Linked DNA regions of Homo sapiens: region 2 is linked to region 1. Evidence: fine-mapped QTL for protein levels in blood plasma. A gene starts in region 1. The other region holds a variant in brackets. All regions are shown on one strand. Distances are between the middles of the regions.

The links. PIP is the chance, under the fine-mapping model, that this variant and not a neighbour inherited with it causes the effect. The UK Biobank Pharma Proteomics Project read protein levels with antibody pairs (Olink). The fine-mapping took linkage between variants from a reference panel, not from the people measured, so its PIPs are less certain.
Region 2: its variant is fine-mapped to the plasma level of the PCOLCE protein (UK Biobank, PIP above 0.99).

The regions. Positions count from the first base shown.
Region 1 is chr7:100,597,250-100,605,572 of GRCh38, forward strand. PCOLCE (procollagen C-endopeptidase enhancer) reads left to right here and starts at 5,114. Exons shown (of 9, transcript NM_002593.4): 1 at 5,114-5,302; 2 at 6,181-6,289; 3 at 6,710-6,968; 4 at 7,842-7,966. The coding sequence starts at 5,208. FBXO24 (F-box protein 24) reads left to right here. Exons shown (of 10, transcript NM_033506.3): 9 at 2,782-2,952; 10 at 3,285-3,868. The coding sequence ends at 3,650. PCOLCE-AS1 (PCOLCE antisense RNA 1) reads right to left here and starts at 6,789. Exons shown (of 9, transcript NR_038910.1): 1 at 6,589-6,789; 2 at 5,091-5,917; 3 at 4,371-4,434; 4 at 3,474-3,603; 5 at 2,791-2,940; 6 at 2,422-2,553. RefSeq lists an enhancer at 6,223-7,015 and silencers at 7,023-7,402, 7,583-7,732.
Region 2 is chr7:100,032,680-100,041,002 of GRCh38, forward strand. ZKSCAN1 (zinc finger with KRAB and SCAN domains 1) reads left to right here. Exons shown (of 6, transcript NM_003439.4): 6 at 626-8,323. The coding sequence ends at 1,518. Among named protein-coding and RNA genes, the nearest start is that of ZSCAN21, 13 kb to the right of the region's middle. RefSeq lists enhancers at 4,651-5,152, 5,153-5,652. The variant A/G (reference allele first, on the strand shown) is at 4,941.

The sequences.
Region 1 (8,323 bases):
TTCCAAATGGGGTGGGTGGTAGGGTTAATTGATGGTGTGACAATGTAAGATACATTTACTACTGACATGGAAAAGATAGTCATGCCATATTTTTAGGTGAAAAAGACTTTTATGAAATGGTTTACATAGTACCATTTATTTTTATTTTTATTTTTATTTTATTTTCAAGATAGAGTCTTGCTCTGTCTCCCAGGCTGGAGTGCAATGGCGCGATCTCGGCTCACTGCAACCTCTGCCTCCCAGGTTCAAGTGATTCTCCTGCCTCAGCCTGCCAAGATGGGATTACAGCGCCCACCACCATGCCCGGCTAATTTTTGTATTTTTAGTAGAGACGGAGTTTTACCATGTTGGCCAGGCTGGTCTCAAACTCCTGACCTCAGGTGATCTGCACACCTTGGCCTCCCAAAGTGCTGGGATTACAGGTGTGAGCCACCGCACCCAGCCTCTTTTTATTTTTATTATTACTTTTTTGAGACATGGTCTCCACTGCTTCCCAAGCTGGAGTGCAGTGACACAATCGTAGCTTGCTGCAGCTTTCAACTCCAGGGCTCAAGAGATCCTCCCGCCTCAACCTCCCAAGCAGCTAGGACTACAGGAATGCGCCACTACGCCCAGATAAGTTTTTGTTTTTTTTGTTTTTTTTGTTTTTTTTTTTTTTAGAGACAGGGTCTTGCTATGTTGCCCAAGCTTATATTGAACTCATGGCTTTAAGCAATCCTCCCACCTCAGACTCCTAAAGTGCTGGGATTACAGGTGTGAGCCACCACACCTGGCCCCATCCCATTTTTTGTTTAAAAATACACAACTTGCCCATCATGGTGGCTGACATCTGTAATCCCAACTACTCAGGAGGCTGAGACAGGAGGATTGCTTGAGGCCAGGAGTTGAAGGCTGCAGTGAGCTGTGATCACCACTGCACTCCAGCCTGGGTGACACTGAGACCCTATCTCTAAAAAATAAAAAATATACAATTTATGTGTATTTGTTTGTTTAGCCAACAGTGAAGAATATCTAGCAAGATGTTAATAGTAGATGGTGGGATTTCCAATGATTTTAAAATTAATTTTTTGCTTGCCAATGTTTCATAATTTTTCTAGAATGACCATAAATTACTTATCAGTGTCTTCAGAATTAAAGCGCTAACAGGCTCAGGAGAATGAGGGGGCAGAAGACGCCCTGGGATTTAGCCACTGAGAGGCCAAGTGCCTCTAGAGAGAGCATGTCAGTAATGTAATAGAGAGAAAAGCGAGATCCCAGGGAGGTGCTGGATAGACTGGCTGTGGGAAGGAACAGTAATGTGGTCAGCCTCAGATTGGTCATGTAACCAACTCTGCTGCTTAAGAGAGAGAGGCAGGAAGCGGCAGGAAGCAAGTAGAAGCTTTTTTTTCAAAAACAGGGTGGCCATTTTGGAAAAGAATTATGTGATAAGTTGAAAATGCTAGGCTAAGCATTTCAACTAGCTCACACCTGTAATCCTAGCACTTTGGGAGGCCAAGGCAGGTGGATTGCCTGAGCCCAGGAGTTCGGGACCAGCCTGGGCAACATGGTGAAACCCCGTCTCTACTAAAATACAAAAGAAATTAGCCAGGTGTGGCGGTGTGCACCCATAGTCCCAGCTACTCGGGAGGCTGAGGAAGGAGAATTGCTTGAACTGGAGAGGCGGAGGTTGCAGTGAACTGAAATCGTGCCACTGCACTTCAGCTTGGGCAACAGAGCGAGACTCCGTCTCTACAAAAAAAAAAAAAATGCTAGAGGCTGAGGTGGGAGGCCCGGAGTTCGAGATCACCATGAGCAACATAGTGAGACACTATCTCTATAGAAAATTTAAAAATTTAAAATTTAAAAATTATAGGCACATGCCGGGTGTGGTGGCACATGCCTGTATTCCCAACTACTCAGGAGGCTGAGGCAGAAGAATGGCTTGAGCCCAGGAGGTCAAGGCTGCAGTGAGCTATGATTGCACCACTGCATTTCAGCCTGGGCAACAGAATGAGACCCCATCTCTAAAAAAAGAAAAGAGAAAATAAAAATGCTAGAGTGGAGGCTGGGCTCAGTGGTTCATGCCTGTAATCCCAGCACTTTGGGAGGCCAAGGCAGGCAGATCACCTGAGGTCAGGAGTTCGAGACCAGCCTGGTCAACATGGCAAAACCCCTTCTCTACTAAAAATACAAAAATTAGATGGGTGTGGTGGCAAGGACCTGTAGTCCTAGCTACTTGGGAGGCTGAGGTGGGAGAATCACTTGAACCCAGGAAGGCAGAGGTTGCAGTGAGCCGAGATCGCACTGCTGCACTCCAGCCTTCCGACTCTGTCTCAAACAAAAAAAAAAAAAAGAAAGAAAGAAAGAAAAGATAATACTAGAGCAGGAAGGGAGGGATAGTGGAAGGGAAAGTCCTTCCTCAGGGTGGTGTTGGGGTCTAACCTGGAATTGCACAAGAAGCAAGTCTCCCCGAGGCTGGCAGGCAGGATGAGAGGCTGGACTGGCATAGACGGGTGGGCTGAGAATGAGGGGTACACCACAGCAGGCCCTGGGCTCAGGCAAGGAGCTGATTTTCTGGGGGCATAGATGAGATACCAACAGAAGTGCAAGACCCTATGTGACCAGTTAGAGTATGGGGGCTGCAGGGGTCAGCAGGGCAGACCTGGGGCGTGGGACAGTGCTGGCTCCCATTTCCTCCTCCCCAGTTCATTCTGCCCCGAGCCTTCCAGTCAACCTTTTCCCACCCCAGCCCCCCCGTCCCTTGGTGCTCCCTGCTCAGGGACCCTGGCCGTGTGTCCCCAGGTTTGTTACCTGCAGCGGCCCATCACCCTGTGGTGCGGCCTCAACCACTCCCTGGTGCTGAGCCAGAGCTCAGAGTTCAGCAAGGAGCTGCTGGGCTGCGGCTGTGGGGCTGGGGGCCGCCTCCCAGGCTGGCCCAAGGGGAGTGCCTCCTTCGTCAAGCTCCAAGTCAAGGTCAGAGCGGGGTCAGGAGAGTGGGCACCCAGGGAGGATGAGAGCCATGAACCAGGAAGCCCACAGGCTGTAGCTGGGGCTCCTGCAGGGACCCAGGGGGTCCCATTTCCCTAGCACCACCCCACCTCCCTCCTCTGCCGCACACCACGCTCTCTGCTTTCTCCCTTAGCAGACTGTGCTGGCCTTGCCCAACCTCACACACCCCTGGGACTTAGCCGGCTCAGGGCTGGTGTGAGAGGGAAGAATGCAATAGGCAGATTAGCCCGGGCACCCTGGGAAACCCTGCAAGGAAAGCACCACTCAGCCATGCCCCCTTTCTCTCCTCCTCCAAGGTCCCTCTGTGTGCCTGTGCCCTCTGTGCCACCAGGGAGTGCCTATACATCCTGTCCAGCCACGACATTGAGCAGCACGCCCCCTATCGCCACCTGCCAGCCAGCAGGGTGGTGGGGACTCCTGAGCCCAGCCTGGGGGCCAGAGCACCCCAGGACCCCGGGGGGATGGCCCAGGCCTGCGAGGAGTACCTCAGCCAGATCCACAGTTGCCAAACGTTGCAGGACCGCACGGAGAAGATGAAGGAGATCGTAGGGTGGATGCCCCTGATGGCCGCACAGAAGGACTTCTTCTGGGAGGCCCTGGACATGCTGCAGAGGGCTGAAGGAGGCGGGGGTGGTGTAGGGCCCCCAGCCCCTGAGACCTAATCCCCCTCATGCTAGCCTAGTCCCTGGAGGAGGGAGTCCGGCCCCAGGCCAGGGACTAAGGAGCAATGACCATTGTGCACATGCGTGTGGGAAGGGGTTGCTAGGGGGTGGGGACGGCTAACCAGGGTAAGAATGTTCAGGGGGCTGCCCAGGAGGGGCCCCCAACCTGACTATCATGGACAAGAGATTTGATGGATAGAATAAAAGGCTGCAGCGAGGCCTGGTGTGGAAGCCTTGGGGGCTGGGAGGGACAGGGGCAGGGATGGGGTGGGTGGGTGCCCGGCTTGGTGGGTGCAGGAGGGCAGGAGCCCAGGCAGGGGCAGGCAGCACAAGCAGCTCCAGGTCTCAGGTGCAGCAGAGCTGATGCTGCCTGAACCCTTCACATTGTTGTCCACTCCCTGCTCCCAAGAGCACACCTGGTCGTTTGGACTGGGAAGTTCTGGCCCTACCTTCTGGAACAACTCTATGCACAGATGCTCTTGGCTACCCCACTGGGATCCCCTGCCCACTAGACTTGTCCCCATCCTGAGGCAGCCTGTTCCTCCTGACCCCCGAAAGCTTCCCACCCATCTCCCTTCGGCCTGAAGCCAGCCCCCCTCCTCTCTCCCTTCTGTTTACCTCCCAGGTTTGGGCTCTATTTTCTACTCCTTCCACCTCTTCCTGAGTAACAAGGACACTCCCTTCATCCACACCCCATGCCTCCTGCCTTGCTTCCTGTACCTTCAAGTAGTTGGAAGAGGTCATGGGTGAGAATTCCTTCTCCTTGGCCTAGTCTGGCCCAGGTCTGGAGAGAAGGCAATGGAGATGTGAAGTGGAGGCCAGGTGTGGTGGCTACGCCTATAATCCCAGCACTTTGGGAGTCCGAGGTGGGCGGATCACCTGAGGCTAGGAATTTGAGACCAGCCTGGACAGCATGCTGAAACCCTGCCTCTACTAAAAATACAAAAATTAGCCAGGTGTGGAGGCATGCACCTGCAGTCCCAGCTACTCGGGAGGCTAAGGCACAAGAATTGCTTGAACCCGGGAGGCGGAGGTTGCAGTGAGCAGAGATCGCGCCACTGCACTCCAGCCTGGGTCACAGAATGAGACTCTGTCTCAAAAAAAAAAAAAAAAAAAAAAAGAAATTGAAGTGGAAAATGAGCTGGCAGGGGTGGTCAGGCAGGGGGTGAGCAATGAGGGCTCCTGAGCTGAGGAAGCAGGGGCGGGGGGAGGATGGGGGCTAGGGAGTCCTCAGAAGTTCCCGGAGATACTCCCTCACTGGACAGAGTGGGGTTCCCGATGACGTTACTTGAGGCCTGGGAGACGGCCTCTGCCCCTCACTGCTCCTCCCCCTCCTAAGGTCAACATTTATGTGTCCTAGACCTAGAGAGGTCCCAGGACACGCCACTGTCCCGCCTTCCCCATTGCCCGCCCCACTGGCCAGTCCCCACGCCCACACACCCAAGGCTGCCCCATCTGGCGCTGATTATCCTGCTGCTGCCGCCACCGCTGCTGCTGCTCTGCAAAATTCAGCTGCTGCCTCTGTCTTGAGGACCCCAGCGCCTTTCCCCCGGGGCCATGCTGCCTGCAGCCACAGCCTCCCTCCTGGGGCCCCTCCTCACTGCCTGCGCCCTGCTGCCTTTTGCCCAGGGCCAGACCCCCAACTACACCAGGTAGGTCTCTTGGCATCTTCCAGACAGCTCCAGTGAACTTCAGACCCCCGATTCCTTTGGGGTTATGCCTGGAGATATTTTGGGTTCCCTTGCTGACACACCACTCCCCAGATTCCCCACCGCCTCACCCTTCTCTGGCCCCCAAATCCTCCCCATCTGCTGCAAGACCTTGGTCTCCTGCAGGCCACCACTGCTCCCATTCCCCCACCTTCGTCCTCTGGTCTCTTAAGTCTCCCCACCCACCCAGATCCTTGACCCCCCATAGAACCCAAGAGAGAGCCAAGCTCCTGAACTTGCCTGGTAGCTGGATTCCAGGAAGGAATTCGAGAGGGATTGTAGGGGGAGGAGGGGGCAGTGAGTGGAGACTTGGGAGTCAGAATCTGAAGTAGTTTGGAACAGGGGCAGGGCTAAGGTGTGGAGCTCGCGGAGCCTGGCCTCCAGGTTCAATCAGAGGGCCATCGCCACTGCAGCTCCCTCCATCTCTCCACCCCCTCCCCCCCACCGCCTCGTGGCTGTGTCCACATCTGGAAGTAGTTAGGCGGCTCCTGTCCCTGGACTGCCAGGCAGAGTGAGGCGGGAGTCTGGAAGGGGGGCCGAGGAGGATTCCGGGAATTCCTGTTGGGGTGGGGGTGGGGACTCTTGGGGTTGGAGGGATGGTCGAGTTGCCAGGCCCACTTTTCCCTTATCTTTGTGGGAGTCTGGGACACCCCAGCCCTGTCCTGGCTGGTGGAAGCTGCCCCAGGTCTCTCAAGGCCTTTCCATTTCATCCCCCAGCTTCCCTCCTTGGAGTTTCATCCTCATCACCTCATCCCCATCTTGCCAGTGCTCCCCCGTCCCACCCGTCCCTGCTCTTTCCTGACCCCTTTTCTGTTCTCCAGACCCGTGTTCCTGTGCGGAGGGGATGTGAAGGGGGAATCAGGTTACGTGGCAAGTGAGGGGTTCCCCAACCTCTACCCCCCTAATAAGGAGTGCATCTGGACCATAACGGTGAGAAACCCCTCTGGGCACTACCCCTTGTTAAAGTCTCAGAGGCAAAAAGGCCTGACTGCGAAGGGACCCCCCCCCCGTCCCCCCCGCACCACCTTCTCAACCTGGGGCAGCTCCAAGTGTCTTCCCTCTGTCACTGAAGGCATCATTCCCACCGTAACACGCATCATCTTAACCCTTCCCTCAAATCTTCATTCTCCAGTCCCCGGCCCTCCCTCCTCTTCCAAAGCCTCAGCTCTTGTCCCCTGCACAGGCTACCAGCAGAGCTGCAGAGACCAGGCCCTCTGCTCTGCACTCACATGGAGGCCCCTTCCCATTCAGTCCGTTTCTGCAAGAAACGCTTGGGGCAGGGGAGCTGCCCTCTGGCTGGGTTGTGTGGGGCCTGACTCTGTGGGTCCCCGCCTCTGTCCCCGCTATCAGGTCCCCGAGGGCCAGACTGTGTCCCTCTCATTCCGAGTCTTCGACCTGGAGCTGCACCCCGCCTGCCGCTACGATGCTCTGGAGGTCTTCGCTGGGTCTGGGACTTCCGGCCAGCGGCTCGGACGCTTTTGTGGGACCTTCCGGCCTGCGCCCCTAGTCGCCCCCGGCAACCAGGTGACCCTGAGGATGACGACGGATGAGGGCACAGGAGGACGAGGCTTCCTGCTCTGGTACAGCGGGCGGGCCACCTCGGGCACTGGTGAGAACTCCCTCACCTCCGCCTTCCCCCCCTCCAGGCCCCGCCCCGGCCGCAGCCCCGCCCCCAGCCCTAACCTCCGCCCCGCCCACCCCGCGCCCCAGTGCCTAGGGCCCCCTACCTCCCTGACCCATTTTCCTCACTAACCGCCCCTTCAGTCCCTCCTCCCCGTCTTCTCTCCCCTCCTCCCGCACCCACCCATCCCTCTTCCAGGGCCCCCCCCAGGCGCGAGGCGGAAATGGGTCACCGACCCGCGGGTGGAATGGGCGGCCTGGGGTTACTGGGACGGTGAGTAACTGCCGGCCCCCGTCCGCAATCGGGCTCCCTCCGTCGGGCGCGAGGGGGCACCCCAGGGCTGGGGGGACTAGGTTCCTCCAACCCCGGGGGGCCCCTACACCCAGCCCTGGGCTCCCGATTGCGGTCCCATCACCCCCTCCTGGCGGCAGAAGTCTCCCTTGCAATGTTTCAGGCGGGGACCTCCCTAAAGGGGTCCTCGGGGGCTGTGCCCCAAGTCGAGGACACCCTCTCCAGCCTGAAAGGGGACTCTGCTGCAGGGCCGGGGAGATGGGATCTCCTAGGGGAAGAGGCGCGGTGCGGCCGCGGGTCGGGGAGGGGCCAGAAGGGGGCGTCCAGCCAGTTCCTCCTCCCGCTTCCACCGCCCGCCAGTGCGCCCTGCGGCCCCAGACTTCCCCGAGCCGCGCTCCTCCCGGCCGCTCTCTGTTAACCTGCCCCCATCTTACCTCCCCTTCTTCTCGTCCCCTCATCCTGAGCCCCAGACATCCGAGCTGCCTGCCGGGGCTCCCAGCCTAGAGTTCTCCTGAAGCTGACCGAGGGTCTCCACCGCCCCCCACCCCCGCTCCTCTCTCCCCTCCCCAGAGCACCAATTTTGCGGGGGGCGGCTGGAGAAGGCCCAGGGAACCCTGACCACGCCCAACTGGCCCGAGTCCGATTACCCCCCGGGCATCAGCTGTTCCTGGCACATCATCGCGCCCCCGGACCAGGTACCGACCCTCCTCCCCGGGCTGCCCTAGGGGACCCAGGCGGCGCCCTCCAGCTTGCAGCCAGCAGAGATTTATTGAAGATCTGCTGTGTCCCGAGCACTGCGCTTGCGCTGGTGGGCACCCAAAACAGCCCCAACCCCTGCATGCACGCAAACAAAAATGTAAAAATTACAACTGAGACAAGTCTCAGGAGAGCGAGGTACAGGGTCCTGGTATAACACGCGGGCCTGTCACTTGTGAGTGCGCCAGGACTTGACCTTGCCAACCACGACGACCGACACCCCTGCAGGGTCCCATGGGTGTGTGTGGTCCTCCGTGCTGTGGTGTGAACGCCTTCAGGAGGGGGGCCCAGAGGAC
Region 2 (8,323 bases), 560 kb before region 1:
GTGAAACCCCGTGTCTACTAAAAAAATACAAAAGTTACCCGGGCGTAGGCCAGGCGTGGTGGCTCACGCCTGTAATCCCAGCACTTTGGGAGGCCGAGGCGGGTGGATCACGAGGTCAGGAGATCGAGACTATCCTGGCTAACATGGTGAAACCCCGTCTACACTAAAAATACAAAAAATTAGCCGGGCGTGGTGGCGGGCGCCTGTAGTCCCAGCTACTCAGGAGGCTGAGGCAGGAGAATGGCGTCAACCTGGGAGGCGGAGCTTGCAGTGAGCCGAGATCACGCCATTGCACTCCAGCCTGGGTAACAGAGCAAGACTCCATCTCAAAAAAAAAAAAAAGTTACCCGGGCGTGGTAGCATGCACCTATAGTCCCAGCTACTTGGGAGGCTGAGGCAGGAGAATCACTTGAACCTGGGAGGCGGAGGTTGCAGTGAACTGAGATCACGTCACTGCACTCCAGCCTGGGCGACAGAGCGAGACTCTGTCTCAAAGGAAATAAAAATAAAAATATTGCAAAGTCATTTTGCAGCCGTGTAGAAGCTTCTCGGGAAACTGTCGCTTGACCCACCTGTATATTCAAAAGAAAAAGGTGCGATTTGAATTTTCTATTTATTATGTCAGGTGGTGAAAACAGGAATGAGAACGAGGAGTCAACCTCAAAGGCTGAAACCTCGGAAGATTCAGCATCACGCGGGGAGACAACAGGAAGATCCCAGAAAGAGTTTGGAGAGAAACGTGACCAGGAGGGCAAAACAGGAGAAAGACAGCAGAAAAACCCTGAGGAGAAAACCAGGAAAGAGAAAAGAGATTCAGGGCCAGCTATAGGAAAGGACAAAAAAACCATCACAGGAGAGAGAGGTCCAAGGGAGAAGGGGAAAGGATTGGGAAGAAGCTTCAGTCTGAGCTCCAACTTCACCACCCCTGAAGAAGTTCCCACGGGAACAAAGTCTCACAGATGTGATGAATGTGGTAAATGCTTCACGAGAAGTTCAAGCCTTATCCGCCATAAAATAATCCACACTGGAGAAAAGCCCTATGAATGTAGTGAGTGTGGGAAAGCCTTCAGTCTTAACTCCAACCTTGTCCTGCATCAGAGGATCCACACAGGAGAGAAACCTCATGAATGTAACGAGTGTGGCAAGGCCTTCAGCCACAGTTCCAATCTCATCCTCCATCAGCGCATCCACTCTGGAGAGAAACCTTATGAATGTAATGAGTGCGGGAAGGCCTTCAGCCAGAGCTCGGACCTCACCAAGCATCAGAGAATTCACACGGGGGAGAAACCCTATGAATGTAGTGAATGTGGAAAAGCTTTCAACCGAAACTCATACCTGATTTTGCATCGGAGAATTCACACTCGAGAAAAGCCCTACAAGTGCACTAAGTGTGGCAAGGCCTTCACCCGCAGCTCCACCCTCACTCTGCATCACAGAATCCATGCCAGAGAGAGAGCCTCTGAGTACAGCCCAGCCTCCCTTGATGCATTTGGCGCGTTCCTGAAAAGTTGTGTGTAAAGGAAGAATTTGCCATCAAGCCATTTCCCCCTTTTGTTTCTAAAATTATTTCAGAGATGTGTGCTCCTGGAGGGAAAAAGAAATACAGCCTCAACAGATTAAAAAACAAAAGTCACACTTAAGGATCCTTCTAGTCACATCAGCAGTGTTCTGCCTTTATGTAGTAGTTGGGCATATAATCCTTCCACACAGCCCCTGCAGGGAAAGGCTAATCTTACGGATAATCCACGTGAGATTTCCACACAAGAGAAAAGCACACGCATAGTGAAATGTCAGTCTTTTCAGTAATGAGGATACCTTTAAGGCACTCTTGGACTCTCGGCAACCACAACATAATAGTTGAAAGATCAAGATTGGCTCCACGAAAGTGATACGGAGGTTAGGATGCTACTTGCTGCAAACAAGCCCTACTTTGGCCAACATCCTGCTTATTTCTCAAAAAAGAGGGACAGTGAAAACAAAAACGACATTGGGACATGCTGCTCAAGGTAGTTATATATACGATAAGTTGTATATATGATCACTGGTAGCCTACCAAAGCTGTAGAAATCTAGGACTGTGCTAATCAGTATCAAACCAAAGATTTCTATCTCTTCCCGAAAGAGAGGGTATGTGCACCAGTCTACAGTTCCAAAGGACTGCAACAAATGTAGATGGTTCTGTCCTCATCCCTGAGATCAGTTCTACTGAAATGGCAACAACAACTCCAAATACATCTCTCCCTTCTTGAAATCCCTAAAGCACTATCGCACTCCTAAATGCATTTCTCCACAAGTTAGCACTTGATTGTATACTGTCTTTTAATCCTTCATTGTTTCATGTATGAAGTTTTTAATCACCCCCTAACCCCCAAAAAAGATTCGGTTGTCAAGGGATATATTTCTATCCCTGCCAGCACAGTGCTGGACATAGTGAGTACTGAACACCTAAGAGGCACTCATTCAGACTGACTTCTACAGGACTTCTACGTGTGTGATAAAAGCCTGTGAATCGTGAGTCCCTGAAATATGGTAGCCTGGCCCAGCTTCTAAAGAGGACCTTCGTAGCCACAAGGCATGCTAAACCTCTAGGGTCTGATGCTGTTTTTGTTCCAAATATAAACGAAAGGCACTAGTCAGCCGCCTGCATAGACTTTCTAAACAGTGAGTAAATACCATGGAATGTCAGAAATGACTTTATCATCGTCATCTTGAAGAAAAATATGAACACTGATGAAGGTCATTTTTTTTTTTTGACATCTTTCTGTGGCAAAGCTCTTAGAATTCTTTGCAGTTAGCTGCTGAACAGTATGATGATTTGGGGATTTTCTGAATCATTTGTACTTAGATACTGGAGTTCAGAAGATGTGATTTTTGTTGCTTTTCAGAAAAAGGAACGTGGTAGGGAGTGTTTTTTCCCACGCTTTTCCAGTAACTTTGCAAAAGCATTAATTGTTCACTGGCAATTACTAAATGTATTTTGTTGCTCTGAGAAACTCAGCAGTGTACTGAGATGTGGCTGGCTGTGCCATCGTCATAGTGCACAGTGACTTTTCTGTTTCTTATCACTAAAGACTGAGGTGAGGTTATGAAACTTTCATTGGTCCCATCGTTGTGCGCAGGGTGCAACTGGCTACCTAGAAGCTGATGGCAGGAGACTGTTTCACACACAGGAGATTGTGAGCTGTGTAAGTAGTCATCGCCACTCAAGTAGGACAAGGGTCCTACCCAAGGCTAGGACCGCCCTGCGGAAACAGAAACATAGACTGAGAACAAACCTCAAGACTATCAGTGTGACCTCCCCATAACAAGAGAACCCCATATATAGTTTGAGACTTTCCCTTGAGAAACTTATACTAAAACTATTACTCATCAGTCATTCACTGATCAGCAGCTAAAGTCCATGAGACCAAATGGTTTTATATGGAACCAACGAAGTGGGAGCTAAAACTGCACAGTGGTCATTCTTTGGCCTCTCCTTGGCTTTATGACTTAAACCAACTACAACTTCCCTATAGCTTCTAAGCAGTTTCATCAGCATTACTTGGGAAAACGTGTTGCAAGTCAACCAGTCACTAGGATATTTCTACCCATGCAACGGAAGAAAAACCCATTACTCCAGAAGAGTATATCTAAGTAACTAAAATGGAGGCAGAAAATGTTTTAAGGATTTTCTTCAAAGAATAAGCCACAGCAATGGTTTTGTAGAAAACTCCTGTGCTTTTGAGCAAGGACTTTTGCCCTCTAGAAAGCAACTGAGGCCAGGTGCGGTGGCTCACGCCTGTAATCCCAGCACTTTGGGAGGCCGAGGTGAGCGGATCACCTGAGGTCAGGAGTTTTGAGACCAGCCTGGCCAACATGGTAAAATCCCGTCTCTACTAAAATTATAAAAATTAGCCGGGCATGATGGTGGGCACCTGTAATCCCAGCTACTTGGGAGGCTGAGGCAGGAGAATCACTTGAACCCAGGAGGCAGAGGTTGCAGTGAGCCAAGATTGCACACTGCACTCCAGCCTGGGTGACTAGCAAAACTCCATCTCAAAAAAAAAAAAAAGAAAGAAAGAAACTGAAAAGTGAGGTGTGGAACTCCAGGCAACGACCCAAGCACTTATTTTTTAAGAGGGAAAGGACTTTGGTCATGTTTACATTGGCCTTTGGTTTTTTTTTTTCTTTCAGCCACAACTATATGCTGATATAACTCAGCCATCACTTTTGAGTTTTGTTTTTAAATGAAGGTTAAATGTGACCTGTGCCCTCACATTTAATTCCGTTTCATGGAGACATCTTCCTGACTTTGTTGGATAGCTGCCACTAGGGTTGCTTCGATCTTCAGCCACATGCTGTCCTTGAAGCAGCTATTTGAAGATGTGTTTTCTGAGGAAAACAGGCTACAACTGTTTATTAAAACCACTTGCAGTGCATTCGTTTATCAGATGCTCAGTGCAAAGTGTAATTGGGTCATGGTCAAAAACGCTTGCAACATCTAATTGGCGTTCAAGATAGTCATTCAAAAGTTCTTGGCCCGCTGAAGTCTGTTAACAGTTGAAACATTCTACAGTTAACCATTAGCATGCTAGTTGTCCTAATGGAAATTTTTGAAGAGTTTTTCAATATATACCCTACCCTTGCCAGGAAGAGAAGTAAAATCCTCAGGTTGTGGGGTATTTGTTTCTACTCCAGCCTGGCAGGCAAGGCTAAAACCTGAGATTATCGATCTATGAGACATCTTGATATGTAAAGCACTTAATATTAAAGGCATAAAAGTGAAACTGCTAAATATGTATAGAGAGGTTGACGTGTGATACGTGGGACAGTTCACATAGACATCAGAGAATTTATTCCAGAAAGGAGCCTCCTGAATGTGATGAATACGGCAAAGCCTTTAATCACATCTCAGCCCTTAGCATCGGAAAGCTTATACTGTAAATAAACTTGATGAATATT[A/G]TATGTGAGGAAAACTTTCATGTATAGCACTCATTGCTTCAGACAGAAAATGAATTCCGTCGGTATGTTCCAATCGTGATGAATTTGAGAAACATTGCAAGAGGGAGCTCAATCTTGGCCGGGCGCCGTGGCTCACGCCTGTAATCGCAGCACTTTGGGAGGCCGAGGCAGGCGGATCACGAGGTCAGTAGTTCGAGACCAGCCTGGCCAACATGGTGAAACCTTGTCTCTACTAAAAATACAAAAAAAAATTAGCTGGGCACAGTGGCGCACGCCTGTAGTCCCAGCTACTCGGGAGGCTGAGGCAGGAGAATGGCTTGAACCTGCGAGGCGGAGGTTGCAGTGAGCTAAGATCATGCCACTGGCACTCCAGCCTTGAGTGACAGAGCGAGGCTCTGTATCAAAAAAAAAAGTTGCGGGGGGGTGCTCAATCTTAACTGCAGAGGATCTACAGATGAAAAAAAATGTGGGGAAATGCTTTAAAAAAATAGCAAAATGTGCAACTTCTTACAAAAATTGTTAACGTTAGGTACTTCTATATATTTTATATGACCATAATGTCCGTGTGTGTTTTGTACCTTCAGTCCCTTGTTATTGTTCCGTATATTACCTGTAAGCAGATACTGTATTTTATTTTAGCCTATTTGACAGAACACATCACTCAGAAAAAGTGAAGTTTCAGAGCAAACAGTGAAGAAATCAGTGTGATTGTAGACAAAAAGTCGGTTCACAGAACGGAGCAGCGGGGAGAGGAAGGGAAAAGCTTCATAGTTTGGTGCTTATCACATCAAGAGATTGGTAAATTTCTGAGGAAAGACAGGCTAATGGGGCACTGAAATGGAACAACTCCTTTAAACGTGCAGCCTTTTGAATTTTTCCTCAAAACCAAGAAGTTGACCTCTGAGCTGTCAGGTGACCACTGTGTGCAAAGGGGATGGATTCTCTTGTCAGTAGACGGTCTTCTCCATGAAGCGAGAGTAGGAAGTGTACTGGAATGGCCAAGTGGGACTGCTTCAGCTGACCAGGTTCTTTTAAACCGTAGTCATGCTTTCCCACTAACTCTTAAATCCTTATGCTTAGAAAATTGAGGATAAGGCTGGGCACAGTGGCTCAGGCCTGTAATCCCAGCACTTTGGGAGACCAAGGCGGGTGGATCACAAGGTCAGGAGATCGAGACCATCCTGGCTAACATGGCGAAACCCCGTCTCTACTAAAAATACAAAAAAATAGCTGGGCGTGGTGGCGGGCGCCTGTAGTCCCAGCTACTCAGGAGGCTGAGGCAGGAGGATCACTTGAACATGGGAGGCGGAGGTTGCAGTGAGCCAAGATGGCGCCACTGCACTCCAGCCTGGGTGATGGCGTGAGACTCCATGTCAAAAAAAAAAAAAAGGTTGGGGGGAGGATAGGACTGGCCAGGCACGGTGGCTCACTCCTGTAATCTCAGCACTTTGGGAGGCAGAGGTGGGCGGATCACTTGAGGTCAGGAGTTTGAGACCAGCCTGGCCAACGTGGTGAAAGCCTGTCTCTACTAAAAATACAAAAATTAGCCGGGCGTGGTGGTGGGCGCCTGTAGTCCCAGCTACTCAGGAGGCTGAGGCAGGAGAATCACCTAAATCTGGGAGGCAGAGGTTGCAGTGAGCCGAGATTGCACCACTGCACTCCAGCCTGGGTAACAGAGACTCTGTCTCAAAAAAAGAAAAAAAAAAAAGAAAGAAAGAAAGAAAATTGGGGATAGGAGAACAGCAAGGTGGGCATTTCCCGGAATTGTGTGCAGATGCATCCAGTCGTGGCATTGCAAGAAGTCTGTCTGATGAAGCTCGGGAAGCATTTTGCAATATTCCCTTTGGCTGTGTTCCTGTGTTCCCTGCTCCCACTTTTCTTCCCCTGGTTTGTGATTATTAGGAGAGAGGTTTTGCAAAGACTCGTTGCTGTGAAAGAATCTTTTTTTAATTTTTATCCTAGAGTCAGTCACTTTTATTCCAGGTAGTCATGCTGATCTGCTTATCCAAAGCCAGCTAACCAGGTTCATCCTACCATCCTCATGGAAGACTGTGTGTATGAATTGGAGTAACAGAACTGAAATACACTTAAACAGTGACAGCAGTACTTCCCAGGGTGGGGGCCATATTTCTCTGTGTCCTACTCTGAGCAACTTCTCAGAGATACGAGGGGGCTAGGGTTTTCCCATCTGGGAAATGGGGTGAAAGTCTGCAGATTGTTAAATGAAATATAGAATCAGAGAAAAAGAAAAGTCAGTGATATAAATAGATCATTTCATAGAAATTAGGGTAGATTTTTATTTCAACTACTACTGGAGAATTTAATAAAAGGCATTATTTGAAAAGTTTTTCTAACATAGATTTAGGGTTTTTTTTTTTAGAGTGGACACACTACATTTAAAAGCAATTATTTTGCTATTCAGATTTTTTATTATCTGAAAATGAAATTATCTGTTTTACTTTTCAAAGCTTTGTGAAACAAACTTGAAGTTATAGGGAGGTAAGCCATCTCCAACTCTGCAGGTCAAACGAAAGTTTGGGAAATACTTTTGACATCCCACAATACAGAATGTCTTAACATGAGAATTGAATTTCATGATGTGTGGTTCCATTTAATAGCGGACACCACCCCAATCTCATGTTTTCCTGTTACCCTAAAACAGTGGAAGGAAACTGGGTGTTTGGTAGACTTCTAAATCATGGTCTCTGACAATTTGAATCTGAGATTCTCACCTCCATTTACTAAAGAATCGTGACTTAATTCAAATTGCACAGTAATCAGTAAAGTGAATACGTTTTTAAAATGGAATTTTCTCCCTTCAGCAAGCACTCATTAAGGAGTGAGGCTGAGTATTTTAAGATAGAGTGAGATCTGTGAGTGATTGAAAGGTGATATTTAAAAACTTGGATTTCATTCCAGTGTCAGGTTTGGGTTTTAAGTTCCTTTGGTCCAGGGAAGGGTCCAAGCAGCCACAGTTGCCCTAAATCTCCATCATTAAGTCTTCCAGCAAGGTTAAGTGCAGTATGGAAGGAGAAGGGGGAAGAGGACGGTAACGGCCCCACACTCCAGGCTGAGAAAGAGTAATTAGGAGGCCTGAGGAGGGGCCGAGGAAAGGCTGTTGGGGTGTGCTGGGGTTGGTACCCGAGCGCCTTCCCCTCACCTCAACCAGAGAAGAGCATCCGGTTGCTTTTTAAAGCTTTTAGCCTGCCCTAGCAAGGACAAAGCATGTTAGATTAGAGATGCTTCTGCTGATCGCAGGGGTTCTTATTTGAAAACATCTATGATGGGGGTGGGGTGGGAGGAGACAGGTTGTGGTTATGCAGGAAAATCTTGTCCTAAAAATATATGAGTTTGGGGGTAAGGGGTGGGATAGCCAAGCAAAA